Homo sapiens: one gene and its partners. The protein of the gene in region 1 purifies or fractionates together with the protein of each later gene. This does not show direct contact. Each region holds a gene or a part of one and is shown in the gene's direction. Other genes may lie near its edges.

Region 1 (7,751 bases):
TCTGTGTATTTGATATGTCAATAATTTGGTCTTTGGGTATATTTTGACAGCACTGGGCAAAAACCATTCCAGAAAAGATGGACTCAGTGATGAAAGAGGAAGAGATGACTGTGGAACCTTTGAGGACACAGGGCCCCTTCTCCAGGTGGGTAGCAGTTGTTGCTTTTTATAGAATATAGATTTGCTGTGGAGTAGCCTGACTAGAGAATTAGGGTCACAGCTAGTTAAGCTATAAGGCCTGAAGCGTAAACTCCTTTTTAATCCCTTCAGTCACTAAATGTCACCTTCTGAAGAATAACCTTATTGGAGACAAGGAAATGTAAATATGATGGAGTTTTGAAAGAGATAGTAGCACTTATTTTGAATGGCTAAGCTCTCCTCTGTTCTCTACCACAGAGCCAGCTCTAGTGGCACTTTTCAAATAAAAAAAAGTTTGCCAAGTACAGATTGCAAATCTAGATTAAATTTAAAATTTAATTACAAGCTCACGCCTGTAATCCCAGCACTTTGGGAGGCCCAGGCGGGCAGATCACCTGAGGTCAAGAGTTCGAGACCAGCCTGGCCAACACAGTGAAACCCGTCTCTACTAAAAATACAAAAATTAGCCCGACACCGTGGCGCACGCCTGTAATCCCAGCTACTCGGGAGGCTGAGGCAGGAAAATCATTTGAACCCGGGAGGTGGAGGTTGCAGTGAACTGAGATCATGCCACTGCACTCCAGCCTGGGTGACAGACTCTGGCTCAAAAAAAAAAAAAAAAAAGCACACCCAGGTAAATTTTGTTGTGGGTACTCTATCACAATTTTTTTTTTTTAAGAATTGCTTACCCAGCTTTTCCCAAGAATAATTTTTTTTTTTTTTGAGACAGAGTCGCACTCTGTCTCCCAGGCTGGAGTGCGGTGGCTCGATCTCGGCTCACTGCAAGCTCTGCCTCCTGAGTTCACGCCATTCTCCTGCCTCAGCCTCCCGAGTAGCTGGGACTACAGGCGCCCGCCATCACGCCCGGCTAATATTTTGTATTTTTAGTAGAGACGGGGTTTTGCCGTGTTAGCCAGGATGGTCTCGATGTCCTGACCTTGTGATCCACCCGCCTCAGCCTCCCAAAGTGCTGGGATTACAGGCATGAGCCACCGCGCCCGGCCTGAACATGCATTTTTCAAAGGTAGTGCTTGTGCTCCTGGTTGCCAAGTCCCAGCACAAGCTTGTTTAGCCTATCTGTTGCCAAATGCTTCAGTAAGGGTTTCTCTTACTAGCAGATGTAAATGGCCAAGTCAGGCAGTGTTGTTTGGCTGCAGACTTATGTTTAGTTTCTCTTCCTGCCTAGTTTGACTATAAGGCTGTTGCTGATCGACTCCTGGAAATGACCAGCAGGAAGAACACGCCCCACTTCAACAGGAAGCGCCTCTCCAAACTCATCAAGAAGTCAGTAACTGGGGAGAGGGTTCTGACATCATCATTCCTTTAGTTCTCATCTCCTGGTGTGGGACAAGCCATCTGCATGCTTATCTTTTTTCTTTCTTCTTTTTTTGTCCTTTAATGCTTTTGTGTATAGCAATGTAATAGACACATGTAAACTGAAAAGCTTAATGGAAACAGCAGTCCCACCCCTCAGGTTCCATTCTTCCAGTGCAGCCATACTCATCTCTTAGCTGCTTTAGAATGATGTGAAGTCTATTCATGTCTAAAATGAACCAACCAGAAACTGATGTGAATCTGCTATTTAGGTGTCTTCTGCTGGTGTGCTGCTGAGATAGATAGGGTTAATTCTTTACCTCTCCCCTCCCTCCCATATGGCTATGCCAAAAGTGTTAGTTAATTCAGCTGTCAGTGTTGATGTCACTCTGACCATAGTGACATGATGACCTGGAATTCATGGAGGGCCTCGTGTGGCTTGCTGTCATTGGTGACAACAACTGTCTGATCACACTCTAGGAGCCGGGCACTGCTCTGAGCACTTTGTATACATTCAAGTATTCCATGTTAAGCCCCCAGAAAGTAGCTCCTGTAGTTTTGCCCATTTCCCAGCTGGTTCTTAGGGCACAGGATGGTCCTAGCTTGCCTGAGGTCCCTGCCATCCAGTGTCTCCTCCCCCATGCACCTCCCCACACTGCGCTTCGATGCGTCTTGTTTGTTCTAATGCACAAAAATTGTGTGAAGCAAAACATGGCTTCGCCTTTCTCCACTGGAGAATTGAATATGAGAGAGATCTAAGCTATTTCTGCCTTCAGAAACAAAAATTGAATTTCTTAGTTTGATTTGGGTGTGCCAAGATGCATCTTTGGCCCGCCGTGTCCTTGCTGGTATTGATGGTAACCGAGGGCGGCACTGGCCTTGAGCTTTTTGGCTTTTGTATTGCACCACCCTTCCCTCACAGAATTTCCTGTCTAGCCTCCCCTCCTGGAGGAGAACGTGAATTAACAACTATTTAACTATGGCTTGTATTTTAAAAATCAAATACATATGTCTACAGAAGACAGAAGGGATTTCTTTATGAACATTTGTTATTTTTTTATTTTTTATTTTTTATTTTTTTATTTTTAGATTCCAAGACCTTTCTGAAGGTGAGGCGCGCCAAGAATCATCATTCATGGTGTTTTTCGTGAATATGGACCCCACTGGGGGCGTTGATGCCAAACGCTGAGAAACAAGATTGAAAGAACTTTACTGAAAACCTCTGATAAGAAATAATAGTCCCTAGCCCAGGCAAAATAGCAAGGCCACATCTCTACTAAAAATGAAAAAATTAGCCAGGCGTGGTGGCGTGATCCTGTAGTCCCAGTCACTTGGGAGTCTAAGAGGGGAGGATCGCTTGAGCCCAGGAGGTCCAGGATGCAGTAAGTTGTAATCACACCACTGCACTCCAGCCTGGGTGACACAACAAGACCCCAACTTTTAAGAAAGACAGACCAGCCCTTACCTAGTCATACCGCAGTACAGCGTGGGAAGTGATGCAAGCCTAGGGCTCCCTGCAGCCTGCCCACCTTCCTATCCTGGGCTCTCCCTAACCACCAAAGCAAGAGGGCAGACTGCTCTCATGTGTGGGTACTGCGATGTTTTGGTTTGGTTTTTATTATTTTAACTAGATGGATTTTCAATGGCCTAGGAAGGTTTTAATTGGATACTCTATGAAGGTAAAAAATGTAATTTCTCAGGATCCCTTTCATTTGCTCTTATGGTCAATGGTCCCCCCGGGAAAGGCTGATGCTGTAAGCTTTGTTACATTTGGACAAGTCAGTGAAGTTACCCCATACCCGTCATTCACTAGGGACACTTGGAATTGGGAAAGGCACCAGCAAGCTGGTTGGAATGCAGAGACTGCATTAGCCAAGCGTCCGGGGTCCAGCCATGGAGGGTGTCACCGAGGGCTTGTGATCCCTTGCCTTGCCTTGGTTGAGAAATCCACAAAGCTTTTTTAAGTCTGTAATTCCTGTGTCAGCAGCGCTCAGGTTTGGGTGGGAGAAACGGTGAGGAACGATGATGATGAGGCAGAAATTGGGAGGGGTGCTGCTCTTAGGCCCCTGGGGCAGAGTCTTGAGCGCCTGGGGAAGCTAACAGTGTGTCACTCTGGCATCTAGGAAGCAGTATATCTCAACTCAGTTTTGCGGAGGACATTTCTGCTGATGAAGATGACCAAATCCTCAGTCAAGGAAAGCATAAGAAGAAAGGAAATAAACTTTTAGAGAAAACTAACTTGGAAAAGGAGAAAGGTAAGCTGTAAAGCTAAAAAGAAGGGCACGACTCAGCCCTTGGGGAGCGGCATGCACCATGGAGGCCTCGGAGACTTGAGCTCGTGCCGTCATAAAGCATTAGCAGAGCCCAAAGCTTCAGTCTTTAATGGCTGAGAGGTAAAGGCGGTTTTCCAAGTGTTGTGCTGTTTTTGGTGGAGCCGCGTCCCCACCTCACCCCGCTCACGTCCGCCTGCTCTCCAGGGCACCTCTGCAGGGAAGCAGGAGCTGCAGGGAGCACTGGGGGGCGGCTGTTTGATGACCACTCGAGATCTATGGTTTTTACCCTTGAGCCCTAAAATTAGTGGAAATGGGACTATTTCAGTTCCATATGTGTTTATAAACGGACAGAAGGAAGGCTTCCAGTCACAGTTGGGGATGGAGGAAGTGGGACCAGACGACAAAGGTAGTGGGCGCACCAAGTACCTCAAGGGAGACAGGAACTTTCCTCGTGGTAGAATGTCAGGAAATTGCGTCCGCCAGTCATACTGTCTGAGAATCGCCAGCAGGACTCTGGCCCAGCTGGCACTGGGTGCTTGTTGATGGGTTTCTGTCTTTTTAGGAAGCAGAGTCTTTTGTGTAGAGGAAGAGGACAGTGAAAGCAGTCTTCAAAAGAGAAGAAGGAAGAAGAAGAAGAAGCACCACCTGCAGCCTGAAAATCCAGGCCCAGGGGGTGCAGCCCCATCCCTGGAACAGAACCGGGGCAGGGAGCCCGAGGCCTCTGGGCTGAAAGCCCTGAAGGCACGTGTGGCCGAGCCAGGTGCAGAGGCCACGTCCAGCACTGGGGAGGAGAGTGGCTCCGAGCATCCTCCAGCCGTCCCCATGCACAATAAAAGGAAACGGCCACGGAAGAAGAGCCCGAGGGCCCACAGGGAAATGTTGGAATCAGCAGTGTTGCCCCCAGAGGACATGTCTCAGAGTGGCCCGAGTGGCAGTCATCCTCAGGGACCTAGAGGGTCCCCGACAGGTGGAGCCCAACTCCTAAAAAGGAAGCGGAAACTTGGAGTTGTGCCCGTCAATGGCAGTGGCCTGTCCACGCCGGCCTGGCCTCCATTGCAGCAGGAAGGCCCTCCCACAGGCCCCGCAGAGGGGGCGAACAGCCACACCACGCTGCCCCAGCGCAGGAGGCTGCAGAAAAAGAAGGCAGGGCCCGGCAGCCTGGAGCTCTGTGGCCTGCCCAGCCAGAAAACAGCAAGTTTGAAAAAGAGGAAGAAAATGAGAGTGATGTCAAACTTGGTGGAGCACAACGGGGTGCTGGAGTCCGAAGCTGGGCAACCCCAGGCTCTGGTAAGGTGGGAGCACCCACAGGCCAGCTCGCCACAGAGGCACTCACTCGCGTCCATGGGGCTCCACTGCCTCCTGAGAGGAAGGGTGGGGGCTGGCGGCCAGGCCTCTGGACTCAGCAGCAGTTAGAATAGGGTGTGTTCATAACAGCCTTCACTAAGGAGGAAATCACAGGTGACCAGTACTTCGGTCCTCCTCATCGGCCACCTTCACTCCCTTAGGCCACATGCTTGGGTTCGGGAGGGCCCACTCCAAGCTGGGAAAGTTATCCCTTGGGCCAGGCACTCCTGCCCCAGGCGTGTTCAGGCCAGTCTAGGCCTCTGTCAAAGGCAGGTCTGGTTTTCTTCATCAGCGCATGGCCAGTCCAGGCCCCTTTGGCAAAAGAGGAAGCCCAAAATTCTCTTGCTTCACTCACCTTCTTTTCTATATTCTTTTCTTTTCTTAGCTTCCCCCCTACCCCCCAGCTCAAGAAACTTCACTAGCAGGACCACTTATCTTCTTAATGGAAAGACTTTCCTTCCACTTTGATTTCTAGAGCCAGATATAAATGAGGAACCAAGCTGTTGATCTGGTCTTGGGTCTGGCTGTGTCACCCAGGCTGGAGTGCGGTGGCACAATCTCGGCTCACTGCAACCTCCACCTCCCAGGTTCAAGCGATTCTTCTGCCTCTGCCTCCCAAGTAGCTGGAATTACAGATACACATCACCATGCCCAGCTAATTTTTGTTATTTTTGTAGAGACAGAGTTTTGCCTTGTTGCCCAGGCTGGGCTCAAGCAGTCCACCTGCCTCGGCCTCCCAAAGTGCGGGATTACAGGCGAGAGCCCCCGCGCCTGGCCCTGATCCGCTTTTCACACCACCTCTGGGCGCCCTGGGCTTCCAGGCCAGGGCCGGCAAACGTAGTGTCACTGCAACAGAGCCACATCCACTTGTATGTGCAGGTCTGTGGCCACTTTCATGCTGCAGCGGCAGAGGGGAGTGGTAGAGACAGAGACCTGCGGTCTGTAAAGCAGAAAATAACTCTGCCCTTCACAGAGTTTGCGCACCTTGGTCACCTCTTGGTTTGCACACACCGCTTTGCGGAGATTATGACATCTCTTGTTTAAGTGGACATGTGTGGACCTGGTGAAGCGCTGGTTTGGGGCTAAGAGTGTCTGCAAGTGGCTAGTGAGTGAGTTTATGGTCAGGAAAGCCTTACCCAGGGGCAGCAGTGCACTGAGCTGGACGGCAGGAGGCCCATTTCTAGCCTCGAGTCTCTCCTACCTCACAGTGCCGCCATCTCCTCCCTGGACTGCAGCCTGCCCCTCGTACCCTCAGCGCTGCTCCCTCACTAAGAGGGCCAGAGACATTGCCTTTCTTGCTGTCGTCTCAGGCCCCTGGCAGCCTATTGTAAAGAGGATGGGGTGTTGCTCAATAAGTCCCAGGGTCAAGGGAAGCTTTCCCCTGCCATCTGTCATGGCACAGGGAAGGCGCACAGGAGAAGCTCCTCGGGCTTCCCTGCCCTCCAGGCGGCACACTTGAACCTGCCGGAGCCACCCGTGTGTCGGCAGCGGCACTGGGCTGCCCACACCTCTGAGAGCCAAGTACGAGACCCGGTCTCTCTCTGGGTGGCTGTCAGTTGCTGCACACGCAATGAGTGTCCTGGGCCTGCCTGTGAGGGACCCACAGCCCCACATGGGCATCACTGTCCTCCACACCAGACTGCCAGCGCAGTGACGATTCAGCTACAAATGGGAGAGTCGATCTTATTAACAGATCGGCTTTGAAAGGCCAAAATCCCCATTTTGAAGATGAAGATAAAAGTGGGTCCTTACTCTGACGAGGCGTTTTCATCGCCCCTCTTGGCATGGTGCCATGATAGCGGTCGTGTTGTGCGTGAAGCCTGAGCTCTGCCGAATGGAAGGGCTGTCTGCAAGTGCGGTGCGGAAGACCGCGGGCCGTCGGGTGGGCTGGATCTGCCTGGGGCTCTGCCTTCCCCTCCTGTGTGTGTGGGCAGCACAGGAGGCTCTGTCGTCTGACCCCTCCTCCGCTTCTCACCCCTCGCTCACGTAGGGAAGCAGTGGGACTTGCAGTTCCCTGAAGAAGCAGAAGCTGAGGGCAGAGAGCGACTTTGTGAAGTTTGACACCCCCTTCTTACCAAAGCCCCTGTTCTTCAGAAGAGCCAAGAGCAGCACTGCCACCCACCCTCCAGGCCCTGCCGTCCAGGTACGCACCCTCCCCAGAGTGGCACAGCACATTTCACCACAAGGGCACAGATGGGCTTGAGCTGACAGTGCTTCCCATGCCGGGCCTGGAGCCCCACTGTGGCCCTCTGAGCCTGTCCACAGTGGACAGGTTCCACGGCCAGGGTAGCATAAGGTCTGAGTGGTCTGGGACCCACCCTGAGGGATCACAGTCAGGAAGGGGACTTTGAGGGGCGGTTGATCCACACATTCTGCCTCCCAGGGCTTCCGGCTCAGGGTTTGCAGAAACCAGTTTTCTCTCGTGAAATGTCACAGTGTTAAACACAAGTGGTGCAAGTCAGCAGTAGGAGGTCCACACAGAAATGTGGGTCAGAGCAGGAACTTGAGGCAGTGCTTCCTGATGCAGGCTGGATCCACTTCCAGGAATGTAAGTAGGAAAGAAGATAGTTGATTGTGGTGAACTGTTGGGATATGCAGATAGCTCAGAGTCCTTGTGCACAAAAAGCTGGAAACTGTGTGTCCATTGTCCATTGCAGTGAGATTCCATCATAGGCATCGTCT
Region 2 (7,964 bases), on another chromosome or scaffold:
TGGGGGGCTAGTGTTACAGACAGACACAACTGGGGGGAAAATCTCAGTCTGCTTTGCATTTGAGCAACTGAGTTGTAGTATAACCAAGATGAAACAGGGGCTCCATTCATATTAAGTTGCATGAGTACTACTATGTTCAGTCAGAATATGTTGTGTGACTACAGTGTCCCAGGCAATATGTTTTGGGTTAATAAGCAGTGCCTAGTCTCTACTCTGGAGCTCAGAATCTAGTGAAATAAGTGGACAAATAAACCTATGTCCATGGGAATGACTAACTACAATGATTTGTGAACACTGAGCAAGGGCACCTGGCCCTGGAATGGGAGTGGGGGTTCAGGGAAGGCTTTTTAGACGTGATGGCTGAGCGTTAAGTAGGTAAAAGAAACAGGAAACCTTGCATCCAAGCAAAGGCACAGAAAAGCTGATGAAACAACATGGTCTTAAGTATGGGGAACTATGAGTAGCTCTTGTTGCTGGGATCGTGACTGTGAGGAAGGCAATGGTGAGAACAAGGCAAGATGTGTTATATCTTGGAGGGCTTTGTAGGTCTTGTTTTGGATAGCTGTTGGAGGGTTTCAGGGAAGAGTGAAAAAGATAAGTATATAGGTAAATGCCAACAGGGTGGATGGGTTTAAGAGAGTCTACCTGCTAAAGGTCAGATGCCCTATTAGCAAGGGTCCTAACAAAATTAAATAATAGCTTTCCACATGTTTTGAAAGTAGGATGGGGCCAGGCAAATTTCTCATCAAATTCTCAGCTTTGGGCTGCACTCGGCCACTGGTATCTTTACTCTTCTTCCTTTTAGAAGCCAGTACCTTCATGGCTCCCTTTTTTTGGCTTTTGGCCTCCTGTTTGGTACTCTGTGCTCTAGTCATTTAACAGCTATTTGAACTAGAATCAGTTACTCTGATCTTCAGTTTTTGAATTTATAAATGAAATAACATCTGCTTTATTCTCTCCAGCTTTAGAATTATGAATTCACTTTTAGGTTTAAATATCTTGAGAGTCTTCTCTCACATTGTTTTTGTTTCCTGTATTTTGGGGATAGTGCTTAACAGTAGTTTTTAAAAACCATATTCCTTTTTTTTTTCCTTATAAGTATACATGTCAGGCAGGGCGCAGTGACTCACGCCTGTAATCCCAACACTTGGGAGGCTGAGACAGGTGGATCACTGAAGGTCGGGAGTTTGAGACCAGCCTGGGCAACATGGTGAAACCCCATCTCTACTAAAAAGACAAAAATTAGCTGGGCATGGTGGCAGGCGCCTGTAATCTCAGCAACTTGGGAGGCTGAGGCAGGAGAATTGCTTGAACTCAGCAGGTGGAGGTTACAGTGAGCCAAGATCGCGCCACTGTACTCCAGCCTGGACGACAGAGTGAGACTTCGCCTCAAAAAAAAAAAAGATACATGTCCATTGTTGGGAATCTAAAAAAGTAGAGAAGCAAATGGAAGACTATAAAAACCACCCACAGTCACATTACTCAGAAAGAATGACTGCTAACATTTTATTTTGTAGACTTTTGAATTCGTTGTGTGTGTGTGTATACATGCTTTTAAAAATACAAATTCTCCCTCTAATTTTGTGAAAACATTACATCATCCAGATCAGAGGAAATAGGCCTGGCAAAATATTGATATTTAAGCATTCAAGGATATTCAACATTTCCTATCAAATTTTTCCTCTTTTTTTTTTTTTTTTTTTGGAGATAGGGTCTTGCTCTGTCACCCAGGCTGGAGTGCAGTGGTGCAATCTTGGCTCACTGCAACCTCCGCCTCCCAGGTTCAAGCAATTCTTGTGCTTCAGCCTCCCAAGTAGCTGGGACTACAGGTGTGCACCACCATATCCAGCTCCTATCAAATTTATGTAAGCTATTCTTCGTCTTGTTATTGAATTTTATACTGATGACAAGATAATTAATTGGCTACCTTTTGTCAAATGGGCCTTTTGCATGTTTCCTGGTGGAAATTTGGGTTTGTCCCTATATGCAGGTTACAAAGGAACTTATTTTAGAAGCTTTGAAAAGTTTTCCATTTAGTACCATTCTGGGGCTTACTCTCTTGTTGAATATCTCTTGATAATAAACATGTCCCTGTACTGTATGCAGTAGTATCATGTATATAGCAGGATCATGTAGTGTTGTGGTTTGTCAACCAGACTGCAGGTTCTTTGAGGTGGGGACTGGGCCTCCACTTAGTATCTAAACTACATGATACAATGGTGAAACCAGAGATGTTAAGCATTTTGTTGGCCAATTAGTTGACTGCATTCATGCTTGCTCTCCTTTCTTCCACATCTAACACCAGGATGACTCAGGTACTTTCGTACCTGGGCATATAGCTAAAATTTATTTCAAGGGGTTCCCCTCCACCACTGCCATGTTAACATTCATTAAACACTTAATTACAGATTACTATGTACCAGGCACTGTCTGAAATTTTGAGGACACAAAGATGAATAAATCAAGGCTCCTGGCTCAGGGATATCAGAATATAAGTTAAAGCACTGTTGCACATTTTCACAAATTGTTAAAAAAATTTGAGACCATGGCTGGGCGTGGTGGCTCACACCTGTAATCCCAGCCCTTTGGGAGGCCAAGGCAGGTGGACCACCTGAGGTCAGGAGTTCGAGACCAGCCTGGCTAAGATGGTGAAACCTTGTCTCTACTAAAAATAGAAAAATTAGCCGGGTGTGGGGGCAGGCGCCTGTAATCCCAGCTACTGAGGAGGCTGAGGCAGGAGAATTGCTTGAACCTGGGAGGCGGAGGTTGCAGTGAGCTGAGATCGCGCCACTGCACTCCAGCCTGGGCAACAGAGTGAGACTCTGTCTCAAAAAAAAAAAAAAAAAAATTGAGACCACGAAACATCAAATAATAGTTTAGGTGAAACAAAATTTTTCCTTGAAACTCTCAGATTAAAAAATGTGCAGTAGACCAGGCACAGTGGCTCGAGCCTATAATCCCAGCACTTTGGGAGGCCGAGGCGGGAGGATCGTGAGGTCAGGAGATCGAGACCATCCTGGCTAACACGGTGAAACCCCGTCTCTACTAAAAATACAAAAAATTAGCCGGGTGTGGTGGTGGGCGCCTGTAGTCCCAGCTACTTGGGAGGCTGAGGCAGGAGAATGGCGTGAACCCGGGAGGCAGAGCTTGCAGTGAGCTGAGATCACGCCACTGCACTCCAGCCTGGGCCACAGAGTGAGACTGTCTCCAAAAAAAAAAAAAGTGCAGTAATCAGAAATACAGAAATACTTTTCCAGCATTTTCCTTTATCATAAAATGTAATATTTTAAATTGTGTTTTCAAATCCTTGTGACACACTAAGTTTTAATAGTTTTCATTGATTGTGCTCTGTGTGTCAGGCACTGCCAGACCATTTTCTGCCATTATCTTATTTAATTTTCTCAATTGATGAAGTAGGTTTTGTTATCCTCATTTCATACAAGGGAAACTTGGGTTCAGATAAGGTAATGTTTCCAAAAATAACAGAGCAGACTGGGTATGGTGGCTCCTGCCTGTAATCCCAGTACTTTGGGAGGCGGAGGTGGGAAGATCACTTGAGCTCAGGAGTTCAAAACCAGCCTGGGCAACATGGCAAAACTCCGTCTCTACAAAAAAAAAAAAAATTAAAAAATTAGCCAGGCAGGGTGGCACATGCCTGTAGTCCCAGCTACTCGGGAGACTGAGGTGGGAGGATCGTTTGACTCTGGGAGGTCGAGGCTGCAATGAGCCATGATCACGCCATTACACTCCACTCCAGCCTGGGCAACAGAGGGAGAACCTGTCTCAAAAAAATGAAATAGATAAAGACTGGGCGCTGTGGCTCATGCCTATAGTCCCAGCACTTTGGAACGCTGAGGCGGATGGGTGGATAACCTGAAGTCAGGAGTTCGAGACCAGCCTGGTGAAGATGGTGAAGCCCCATCTCTACTAAAAATACAAAAATTAGCTGGGTGTCGTGGTGCAGGCCTGTAATCCCAGCTACTCGGGAGGCTGAAGGATGAGAATCGCTGGAGGCAGAGGTTGCAATGAGCTGAGATAGCGCCACTTCATCCAGCTTGGGCAACAGAGCGAGACTCCGTCTCAAAAAAACAAAAAGGCCGATTTTCAATGTCAGATATTATTCTATCCCATTTTTGAAATTTATTTTTTCTTTTATATATATGAAATATTTTATTTATATATTATATATGTGTGTGTATATATAGATATATAGACATAGGGGTTTTGCTGTGTCGCCAGGGCTAGTCTTTAAGTCCTGGCTTCTTTGGAGGCTGAGGCAGGAGATTCGCTTGAGCTCGGGAGGCAGAGGTTGCAGTGAGCCCAGGTCACGCCATGGCACTCTCCAGTCTGGATGACAGAGCGAGACTCTGTCTCAAACCCACAAGACCTCTCTCTCCCGCTAGTCTATAAAGCTTCTTGACGATAAGGCTTTTGTGCTTGTTAGTGAATACTAGTCCTGTTTCTCCTACCTGACACAGTGAACGCTCATAAGATGTTTGAGTGCTCGCATGAATGAACGACCAGACCCGACTGAATTATTTTTTTTCTTCAGGCTCCTGAGTCTGGTCGACACTTTCAGAGTAGACGTTTCCAAGAGATGATTAAGGACACACATCCGCGCGTCTGTACGTGCAAACTCGAGCAATACAACATAAAGCACTGAAGATGGCGCCACTCAAAAGCAACTAGAAGCCTTCATTTATCAGGCTGGGGCTAGGGAAAATCTGGCCAGTGTTGAAGAATACAAAGCTAACCTTTGCAATTCCTTGCGGTTCTACCGTTCCGTAGGTGCCTTCTAGACCAAGGGCCGCAAGTGGTCAATTCACTAAATCCAACCACAGTCACAGGCCGCTGCTTTGAATTTACCACGCGGAAAGCAGCTTTTCCTGTGCTTCCTGCTTCCCCCGGAAGTGCCTTGCTACGGGAAGTGACGAGAGCCGGGTGGACCCAGGGTGGGGAACTACCTCTTCCTCTCCACGCGGTTGAGAAGACCGGTCGGCCTGGGCAACCTGCGCTGAAGATGCCGGGAAAACTCCGTAGTGACGCTGGTTTGGAATCAGACACCGCAATGAAAAAAGGGGAGACACTGCGAAAGCAAACCGAGGAGGTGAAACGGAGGGACCTGGGGCCAGGAGGGACGCTGAATGGAGCGGAACCCCGGGGTGCGGGAGAAGTGCCCGGGCTGGGATCGTGGGAGCGCGCGGCGGATAACAGCGCGTCCAGACACCGGGCGTGGGTCTTGGCGGGCGGTCGCCCAGGAGTGGTGCGCTCCCCGGGCAGTGGACGCGTCGTTTGCCCGACCGAGCCAGGTCCGCCGTGCGCTGACCTCTTCCTCTGAGCTTATAGGCATCCACAGGTCGGAACTCTGGTAGAGAGGCCCTGTTGGAGCTCGGGAGAGGGCCGGGTGTCCCACGTGGTCCCCGGCGACTTGGGCGCGCCTCACACAGTGCGCAGAGTTGGACCTTCAGTCAGGCTCCACGTTGTTGGCTAAGACAGAACTCCCGGCATGAGCGTGCGCGAAGGAAGTTACACGTCAAGTCAAAGTGGGTACTGGAGGCCGGGTGCGGTGGCTCACGCCTGTAATCCCAACACTTTGGGAGGCCGAGGCGGGCGGATCATGAGGTCAGGAGTTCGAGACCAGCCTGGCCAACATAGTGAAATCCCGTCTCGACTAAAAAATACAAAAATTAGCCGGGCATGGTGGCGCGCGCCTGTAGTCCCAGCTACTCGGGAGGCTGAGGCAGGAGAATTGCTTGAACCCGGGAGGCGGAGGTTGTGGTGAGCCGAGATCGCGCCACTGCACGTCAGCCTGGGCAACAGAGCGAAACTCCATCTCAAAAAAAAAAAAAATGTGGGCACTGGAGCTTTAGAGTAGACTGGAGAGGTCTTAACTTCATCTGCGCACGTGGGCCGCGTCTTTAGTGACTTTTTAAACTCTCGTAAGGGAAGTAGAGTTTGTTTTCCGGTAAGCCGCCCTGAGAAGATGACGTAATTCAGTTATTACGAAAATCTGTTTTACAACTGTTTGACCCACATGAGTTGACTGGATTTCCCATGGAAATGTAAAGGCATGTGTTGCGGTGCTGAGTGTACACCATATTTTTTATATAGGCCAGCAGTGTGCAGTAGTTTTAACCTTGATAGCTGACCGGTGCTTTGCTGTTGCTTCCTAGTGATTTAACTTGTGACTGAGTCTCTGTTCTGAGATCAAGTCAGTGGGAACAAAGATTGTCCTTGAACTTAGGTTGTACGCTACTTAGAATTAACTTTCCTTGTTGGTTTCTCTGTCTTTTGATATGGAGTTCTTACAATAGCAATATTTTAGAATTGTAGGAAGCCGCGGCAGATTTGTACTCAGGTGCAAGAAGGTCGTGGTCCTGGTTTACATTGCATCAGTCAATTGCGTTCAATTTGGCATGCTCAAATCCAGAGGTACATGACCAAACTCTGTTATATTCCAAAAGAGACCACCAGGATGGGAAACTCAGTCTTATTTGGTGGAACCAAGGGATGAAAACGAATAAAATTTTGGAAGGAGACTAGCTTGTTTTTTGTTGGCTAGGAGATTATTCTTAATCTATGATTTGAGAACAGAGACCAGGCCTGAAATTTCCGGGAGGCAGAATTCAGCGTAATATGTACTTCCAACATTGTTCTGGGGCTCTGCCAGAACAGGCTTCTAAGGAGGCTACAACACATGTCTAATTGTTTTCAGTAGTATGAAAAGTTGTAGAGGGTCAGAAAGTTCAAATAGGAGCCACAGTCATCTGTCTTACTTGGTTCTAAGGTGTCACTCCTTCCATATTCTTGTAACTTATTTATTTTATTTTAAATTAAGTACATCTTTTTTACACATGAGTGATAGACTGTGAGTTTTTATAACTTTTTGTTTCATAAAGTGTCTCTTTATTTTATTATTATTATTTTTTGAGATGGAGTTTTGCTGTCGTTGCCCAGGCTTGTTCTCCATGTTGGTCAGGTTGGTTTCAAACTCCCAGCCTCAGGTGATCCGCCCACCTCGGCCTCCCAAAGTGCTGGGATTACAGGTGTGAGCCACTGCATCCTGCCCTTTTATTTTTTGTAGAGACAGAGTCTTACTGTCACCCAAGCTAGAGTGCAGTGGCATGATTATAGCTGACTGCAGTCTTGAATTCCTGGGCTCAAGCAATCCTCCCACCTCAGCCTCCTAAGTAGCTAGGAGTATAGGTGTGCTGCTACACCTGGCTAATTAAAAAAAAAATTTTTTTTTTTGAGACAGTCTTGCTGTGTCGCCCAGGCTGGAGTGCAGTGGCATGATCTCAGCTCACTGCAACCCCCGCCTCCCGGGTTCAAGCAGTTCTCCTGCCTCAGCCTCCCGAGTAGCTGGGACTACAGGTGCGTGCCACCATGCCTGGCTAATTTTTTTGTACTTTTAGTAGAGATGAGATTTCACTGTGTTAGCCAGGATGGTCTCCTTCTCCTGACCTCGTGATTCGCCCTCCTTGGCCTCCCAAAGTCCTGAGATTATAGGCATGAGCCACCGCGCCCAGCCTAAATTTTAAACTTTTTCAATAGAGACGGGGTCTCGCTATATTGTCCATGCTTGCCTGGAACTGCTGGCCTCAAACAATCCTCCTGCCTTGGCCTCCCAGAGTGCTGAGATTACAGGCATGAACCACTGCACCTGGCCCTAAACTGTCTTTGTATAAATTCATTTGCTCTTGTAAGATAGGCAAAGTGCAGAATTCCTGTTTTGGAGTTAGAGGCTGCAGTGAGCTATGATCATGCCTCTGTACCACAACCTGGGTGAAAAAGTGAAATTGTCTCTTAAAAAAACAAAAAAAATCCCTGTTGTTTTACCTGGGATTTTAGCAGGAAGAAAGAAAAGAAACCTGCTTAACATCATCAATCTGTAGATACATTTGCCTTATTCTATTGGAATTGAATTTGGACTTTTTATAGTATTGAGTTTGGAGCCTGTTGGA
Region 3 (7,036 bases), on another chromosome or scaffold:
AGAAAGATGCAGCTGATATCATCCACTCTTCCTCTCACTTCTCTTTCCCAAAGCCCAGTGGCTACCCCTAACAAAAAACCCAAGAGCACTGCTGCGGAAGAGAAAACAGTTTCAAATATCATAATTGAGAGAGGTGCTGGATTGTCACCATTCTGTGGAGTCTTCCTGAGGACCCAACTCTGCTGATGTGTTGGGAGAACAACTCAAAGGAGAAATGGTAGATGTGCAGCATGGGAGCTCATATCTTTTCTTATTTCTTTCTTTCCTTTCTCTCCTTTCTTTTTTAGACAAGAGTCTTGCTCTGTCACCCAGGCTGGAGTGAAGTGGAGCCATCATACCTCACTGCAGCCTTGACCTCCAGGGCTCAAGTGATCCTCCCACCTCAGTCCCTGGAGTAGCTGGGACTACAAGTATACGCCGCCAGTACTGGCCTTTTTTTTTTTTAAGAGATGGAGTCTTGCTATGTTGTTCAGGCTGGTCTTGTGCTCCTGGGATCAAGTGATCCCATCTCTGCCTCTCAAGGTGATGGGATTACAGGTGTGAGCCACGGTGCCCGGCAAATCCCCTCTCGTAGCAACTCAGGTGTATTTGTATGGAGTGGAGTGAATATAGCAGTAGTTGCTCCAGGAACAGAATCCAGAATTGGAAACTGTCAGTGACAGAGTTAGAAAGAATCATGAATCAGATGACTGAAAGATCCTCTGAGGCTCTTCCAACTGGGAGATTGGATTGCATGTTGCCAAGCTAGTCCAAACTTCGTTTTAAAAACTTCCATAGGCTGGGCATGGTGGCTCATGCCTGTAATCCCAGCACTTTGGGAGGATGAGGCTTGAACTCCTTGAGCCCAGGAGATCAAGATCAGCCTGGGTAACATAGGGAGACCCTGCCTCTATTTAAAAAAGAAAAGAAAAAAACTTCTGTACAGGATTCATTTGGAATAGCACTTCTCAACCTCAGCTATTGACATTGGGGACCAGATAATCCTTCGTGGTGGGGCTGTCCTGTGCCTTGCAGGATGTTTCGTGGCATCCCTGGCCTCTACCCATGAGATACGAGCAGCTCCTTCCCTCCTCCAGCTGTGACAACCAGAAAGTCTTCAGATATTGACAGATGTCCGCAGGGGGGACAGAACTACCCCCTGTTGAGAACCACTGCCCCCTGTTGAGAGCCTTCCCAATAGCTGTGACTATAGGCATGTGCCACCATGCCCAGCTAATTTTTTAAAAAAAAAGTTTTTTGTAGAGATGGGATCTTGCCATGTTGCCCAGGTTGATATCGAACTCCTGGGCTCAAGCAATCCTCTCACCTGGGCCTCCCAAAGTGCTGGGATTACAGGCGTGAGCTACTACGCCTTGCTCCTTGCTTTTCTTTATTTCATTGAGTCAGTGTCTTGCTTTGTCATCCAGGCTGCAGTGCAGTGGCATGATCATAGCTTACTGCAGCCTCGAACTCCTGGGCTCAAGAGATCTTCCTGCCTCAGCTTCCCAAGGTGCAGGGATTACAGAATCATATTTTTTATCTGACTTTAAGCACGGTCTCTATCTCCCCCAGTCGTGACAAACAACGTTTCCCTCCAGACTGCCAAATAGCTCCAGGAGGGCAAACCCCGCCCCCCCTTTTCAACCCGAAGCGGAAGGATATTGAGGTTGCACCACTCAAAACAGAGCAGGAATACAAAAATATCCAAAGAGCTGGTGTTGGGCTTGGCACAATGGCTCACGCCTATAATCCCAGCACTTTGGGAGGCAGAGACGGGTGGATCACCTCAGGTTGGGAGTTCGAAACGAGACCAGCCTAACATGGTGAAACCCCGTCTCTACTAAAAATACAAAATTAGCTGGGCGTGGTGGTGCATGCCTGTAATCCCAGCTACTCGGGAGGCTGAGGCAGGAGAATCACTTGAACCCAGGAGGCGGAGGTTGCAGTGAGCCGAGATGGCACAGGTGTGAGCCACAGAGCCTGGCCTGGGCTGCGTTCTTTCAGGAGGCTCTGGGGCGAATCTGTTCCCTCGTGTCTTCCAGCTTCCAGAGGCTACTGGCACCCTTTGGCTTATGGTTCCTTCCTCCATCTTCAAAGCCATTAACTTCGGTTGTGACTTTCTTACAGCCAATCACTCTGACCCCAATCCCAGCCTCCTTTGTCACATCTGCTTCTCTGACTGTGGCTCTCCTGTCCCCCTCTTGTAATCACCCTTATGATCACATGGGGCCCACCTGGACAATCCCGGGGCATCTCTGCATCTCAAGATGCTCAACTTAATCAGATCTGCAAAGTCCCTTTTGACATACAAGGTAACATCTTCACAGGTTTCAGGGATTAGGATTAGGATTAGGACATAGACATCTTTAGGGGGAACCCTTATTCTGCCTACCGAGGTGAAGAGGTGAAGCCGGCTGGGCTTCTGGGTTGGGTGGGGACTTGGAGAACTTTCCCGTCTAGCTAAAGGATTGAAAACACACCAATCAGTGCTCTCTGTCTAGCTAAAGGTTTGTAAACACACCAATCAGCACTCTGTAAAAACGGACCAATCAACATTCTGTAAAATGGACCAATCAGCAGGATGTAGGCAGGGCCAAATAAGGGACTAAAAACTGGCGGTCCAGCCAGCAGTGGCAACCCGCTCGGGTCCCCTTCCACGCTGCGGAAGCTTTGTTCTTTCCTTCAGGCAGGTTGGAGTCTTGCTTTGTCACCCAGGCTGGAGTGCAGTGGCATGATCATAGCTCACTGCAGCCTCGAACACCTGGGCTCAAGAGATCCTCTTGCCTCAGCTTCCCAAGGTGTGGGGATTACAGACTCGTATTTTTTATTTATCTAACTTTAAGCACGGCCTCTACCTCCCCCAGTCGTGACAAACAACGTTTCCCTCTAGACTTCCAAATAGCTCCAGGAGGACAAAACCCCCCTTTTTCAACCCGAAGCTTAAGGATATTGAGGTTGCACCACTCAAAACAGAGCAGGAATACATAAATATCTAAAGAGCTGGTGTTATCTCAGTGATATCCCTTTTTTTTTTTTTTTTTTTTTTTAGCTTCGGCGGTGACACCTACTCTCCTGGTCTTCTCCCTACCTCGCTAGTCACTCCTCCCAGTCTCCTTTCCTGCGCTTAAATTTCAGAGTACCCCAGGCGTTGGCCTGGGTCTTCCGCTCTCCACTTAAACTTACTCCTTTGAGGTTTTCAATCTGGTTCTACAGCTTTAAATAGCATCTCCATTGATAAACTCACAAAATAAGGCACTTTCAAGTCAGTGGAGGAAATGATAGTATTGGGACAAAGGACTTTCCATACACGGGAGAAAAAAAATCGTTCGTCGCTGTGGGAGGGCTGCCGGGTCTCGTCCACGCTCCCTTTTGAGCACCTACAGTGAGCGTAGGATTGCCACGGATAGCCCAATCCACAAGTGAGTCAAGCTGCCAGGGCTCCAAGAAAGACCCATGGAGGGAGAGGGGAACGTCCGGGGAGGCGAAGGCTGCGAGTGAGACCCGGAGAGGCTGATGTCGGCGGGTCTGCGCGCTCGCAACGCGACCTCCGCCCGGTCAGCAAGACCTCGGCGCGCGATCCTCAGATTCTGCGAAACAAGACAAGCGACTGGGTCCGAGACCGCGGTCCCCATCAAAACGAGCATCAACCAATCGCTGGGAGAAATCCGCAGCCTCGTTTTAAGCCACCAAGCAGAGACCGCGGCGACCTATTATGATAACCTCGAGAACCAATGAAAAACGGGGATTCGCTCAGCCCGCCTCCCGAGCTTCAACCCCGAAGAGATCGCGCACAGTTTTATAAAAGGTACAAATTAGAAAGCAGTTCTGCGGCTGGATTAGAGACATTGTGTTTTCAAAGACGGTGGGGAGGGCTAGAGAAAAATCCTAGAAGCTAGCAAGACCGCACTACACCGAAACGTCGCGGGCAACGGACTCGCCAGTCACCATCTAGCCCAGGGACGACGCGGGACGGACGTGCCGCTGCGCGCTGACATCACGCTCCAGGCCCCGCCCCACCGGCCGCCCATATAGCGAAAGCCTGGCGCGCGCGCGCGCCATTGTGTGGCTGGACTCGGCCGCCCCTGTGGTGTGAGGCGCGTGTTCGGGCTCTTGCCGTCCCCGCACCCGCACCGCGGTTACTGGCTTGCGGTCCGCCGTTCGACAACCAGCCCTTGGGTCCCCGCCCGCCACGGACATGCCGCGCGTCTACATAGGACGCCTGAGCTACAACGTCCGGGAGAAGGACATCCAGCGCTTTTTCAGTGGCTATGGCCGCCTCCTCGAAGTAGACCTCAAAAATGGGTGAGTCGGGCCTGGGCGCCCGCGCCCAGCGTCCCAGGCCTGGTGGCGGCGGGAACTCTCCAAGGAAAGAAGCGGCCAAGGCCGCGGCGCCGCGTGGCAGGGCCTCAAAGATGGCGACGGCGCGGCGTCGCGGGGGCGCGCGGTGGGGTACGGGCGCGCGCACGTGCGCGTCCTGGCTAACGACTCCCCCGCGGTTGTCCGGCCCTCGCACCGCCCCTAGGTACGGCTTCGTGGAGTTCGAGGACTCCCGCGACGCCGACGACGCCGTTTACGAGCTGAACGGCAAGGAGCTCTGCGGCGAGCGCGTGATCGTAGAGCACGCCCGGGGCCCGCGTCGCGATCGCGACGGCTACAGCTACGGAAGCCGCAGTGAGTCCCACCCCCGCGCGCTCCGCGCCCTTGGGGACCCTGGGGGCGGGGGTGGGTGGGGTGGGGCCTCCCAGCCCGGGCAGGCGCGAGGGCCGGGGGTCGTTTGACTTGGGTGTCCCCGAGCCCCGCTGCCTTCACGTCTGCCCGGGGCAGCCATGGGACGCCGGAGCGCGGGGATTGGGTTTGGGTGTTTGGTTTTGTTTATTTGCCAAGTTGGGAGGTGGGTGGCTTCTTCTGGCCCCTTGTCAGCACTGTCACGGGTTCTTCCCACAGAGGAAGTAAGGGGTGGCTGTATTTGTTGTATTCTCCTTACTTACCTATCAGTGCATTAGTTAGAGGTTCGGGGGCAGGCTCGGGTGGAGGTGGGGTAGGGGGCGCGGGGGACGGGGAAGGGGAGGAGCATAAAGTATAGGTCTTAAAGCTATGGAACTTGATGGGGGCCAAAGAATGTACTATTTTTAAGTAATGTGGTATTGTACCACAAAGTAGATCTAAATAAGCTTTATGCTGTATTTGAACTAATTGGGGCATGTTATTGGGAGGAGGTTGGGGGGATTTTTGGTTATGTTAAATGTTTGATGTTTAAATTGTTGCATGTTGAATTCAAACTTTTTAACAAGTCCTTGATGTTTCAATTTGAAAGTGACCAATGGGGCTGAGGCTGTGTCCACTGAGGCTAAGATGACTGCCTTTCCTGATTGGCCTTGGCTTTTCCATACATTGTGTGACCCTTGCCCTATGACCCTTTGGCTGACCTTACCGGAAGCCATGACGACAGCAGCCTTTTGCCATTAGACGCAGGGTGATGGTGAGGATTCCAAGGGTTAGACAAAACTGGTTAATCTGAACTAGGTGACTGTTACCTTGCGTGTTTTGTGGCCAAACCACCACCAAAAACCTCACACTGTGATGTAAGTACTTAGTGTAAAACTAGTAAACATTTTTGTAAAATGTAGAAATGCATGTAATCAGTTAAGTTTTATATTTTACAATGTTCTGTAAAATAAAACTTAGCGAGGTAAATCGAATAAAGGAGCAGTCACTCTCTAACAGATTGTAGGAGAGGTTTAGTTGGATTTAGTCTATTTGACTTGCCCTTAATTTAATTTTATGGCAAATCACAAATGTGTCGAAGGTTTAGCAATATAATAGCAAAGTCCTACTCCAGTAAATAAAAGTTGATATGTTTGTACTAACTTTCAAAGACATTATGCGTTTTTATCATTACAAGGCATCTAATTGTTCCCTTCATGTGATAAAGGTGGTGGAGGTGGATACAGCAGTCGGAGAACATCTGGCAGAGACAAATACGGACCACCTGTTCGTACAGAATACAGGCTTATTGTAGAAAATCTTTCTAGTCGGTGCAGTTGGCAAGATTTAAAGGTATGTTTTGTAATTCAAGATAGAAATGATATGACTAATGCTTTAAAGTAAACTCCTTTTATATTCTTATTTCTGGGAATTTATTATGGTATATAGATGTTTTAAGATTTCCGAGTCTGACCAATCTTGTCTTTCAGGATTTTATGCGACAAGCAGGTGAAGTAACCTATGCGGATGCCCACAAGGAACGAACAAATGAGGGTGTAATTGAGTTTCGCTCCTACTCTGACATGAAGCGTGCTTTGGACAAACTGGATGGCACAGAAATAAATGGCAGAAATATTAGGCTTATTGAAGATAAGCCACGCACAAGCCATAGGCGATCTTACTCTGGAAGCAGATCCAGGTAACTTGTTGAAGGACACTGTGGGAAGGAAACAATATTTGCCAATAAAAAGGGAGTAATTGAGTGATGTCAATTGTTGCCTACTTGAATTAAAGCCAGCTTTTAGTTTGTTTTGGCTGTGCATCATTGCGTTCTTTTCTGGATGTTTTGAACAGTGTATTTAATTTCGTAGTAAAGAAAAACATTATTCTTTGGCTTATCTATTTTTGCCAGATGGCACGGATGTATTTAAGTTGGATTGGGATTAAGACTTCATTGTTTTTCTCCTAATAGGTCTCGATCTAGAAGACGGTCACGAAGTAGGAGTCGCAGGAGCAGCCGCAGTAGATCTCGAAGTATCTCAAAAAGTCGCTCCCGGTAAATAACGTTGTGTTGAGTCACTGTGAATATTACCGTACTTGTTTATGGAGTATGTGTACATTCTCACTAAGTATTGAGAAAATCGGTCTTTCCTTGTCCAGTTCCAGGTCGCGGAGCAAAGGTCGATCACGTTCTCGATCAAAAGGCAGGAAATCTAGATCAAAGAGCAAATCTAAGCCCAAGTCTGATCGGGGCTCCCATTCACATTCTCGAAGCAGATCTAAGGATGAGTATGAGAAATCTCGAAGCAGGTCTCGGTCCCGATCCCCTAAAGAAAATGGAAAGGGTGATATA

Evidence for each region. The genes of interacting proteins can lie anywhere in the genome.
Region 2: the proteins of RRP1B (region 1) and DDX21 purify together in Homo sapiens (affinity purification with mass spectrometry; 3 studies listed by BioGRID and IntAct, with this or other methods). This does not show direct contact.
Region 3: the proteins of RRP1B (region 1) and SRSF6 purify together in Homo sapiens (affinity purification with mass spectrometry; 3 studies listed by BioGRID and IntAct, with this or other methods). This does not show direct contact.

What each region holds. Positions count from the first base shown.
Region 1 is NC_000021.9:43,683,229-43,690,979, forward strand, and holds part of RRP1B (ribosomal RNA processing protein 1 homolog B), read left to right. Parts: intron 1-50; coding exon 51-145; intron 146-1,324; coding exon 1,325-1,422; intron 1,423-2,541; coding exon 2,542-2,561; intron 2,562-3,575; coding exon 3,576-3,707; intron 3,708-4,287; coding exon 4,288-5,012; intron 5,013-7,059; coding exon 7,060-7,212; intron 7,213-7,751. UniProt on the Homo sapiens protein: Positively regulates DNA damage-induced apoptosis by acting as a transcriptional coactivator of proapoptotic target genes of the transcriptional activator E2F1.
Region 2 is NC_000010.11:68,951,206-68,959,169, forward strand, and holds the start of DDX21 (nucleolar RNA helicase 2), read left to right. Parts: upstream 1-4,964; 5' UTR 4,965-5,020; coding exon 5,021-5,107; intron 5,108-5,441; exon of another isoform or gene 5,442-5,543; intron 5,544-7,964.
Region 3 is NC_000020.11:43,453,860-43,460,895, forward strand, and holds the start of SRSF6 (serine/arginine-rich splicing factor 6), read left to right. Parts: upstream 1-4,036; 5' UTR 4,037-4,174; coding exon 4,175-4,281; intron 4,282-4,501; coding exon 4,502-4,650; intron 4,651-5,293; coding exon of another isoform or gene 5,294-5,445; exon of another isoform or gene 5,446-5,678; intron 5,679-5,911; coding exon 5,912-6,036; intron 6,037-6,173; coding exon 6,174-6,382; intron 6,383-6,655; coding exon 6,656-6,739; intron 6,740-6,843; coding exon 6,844-7,036. UniProt on the Homo sapiens protein: Plays a role in constitutive splicing and modulates the selection of alternative splice sites. Plays a role in the alternative splicing of MAPT/Tau exon 10. Binds to alternative exons of TNC pre-mRNA and promotes the expression of alternatively spliced TNC.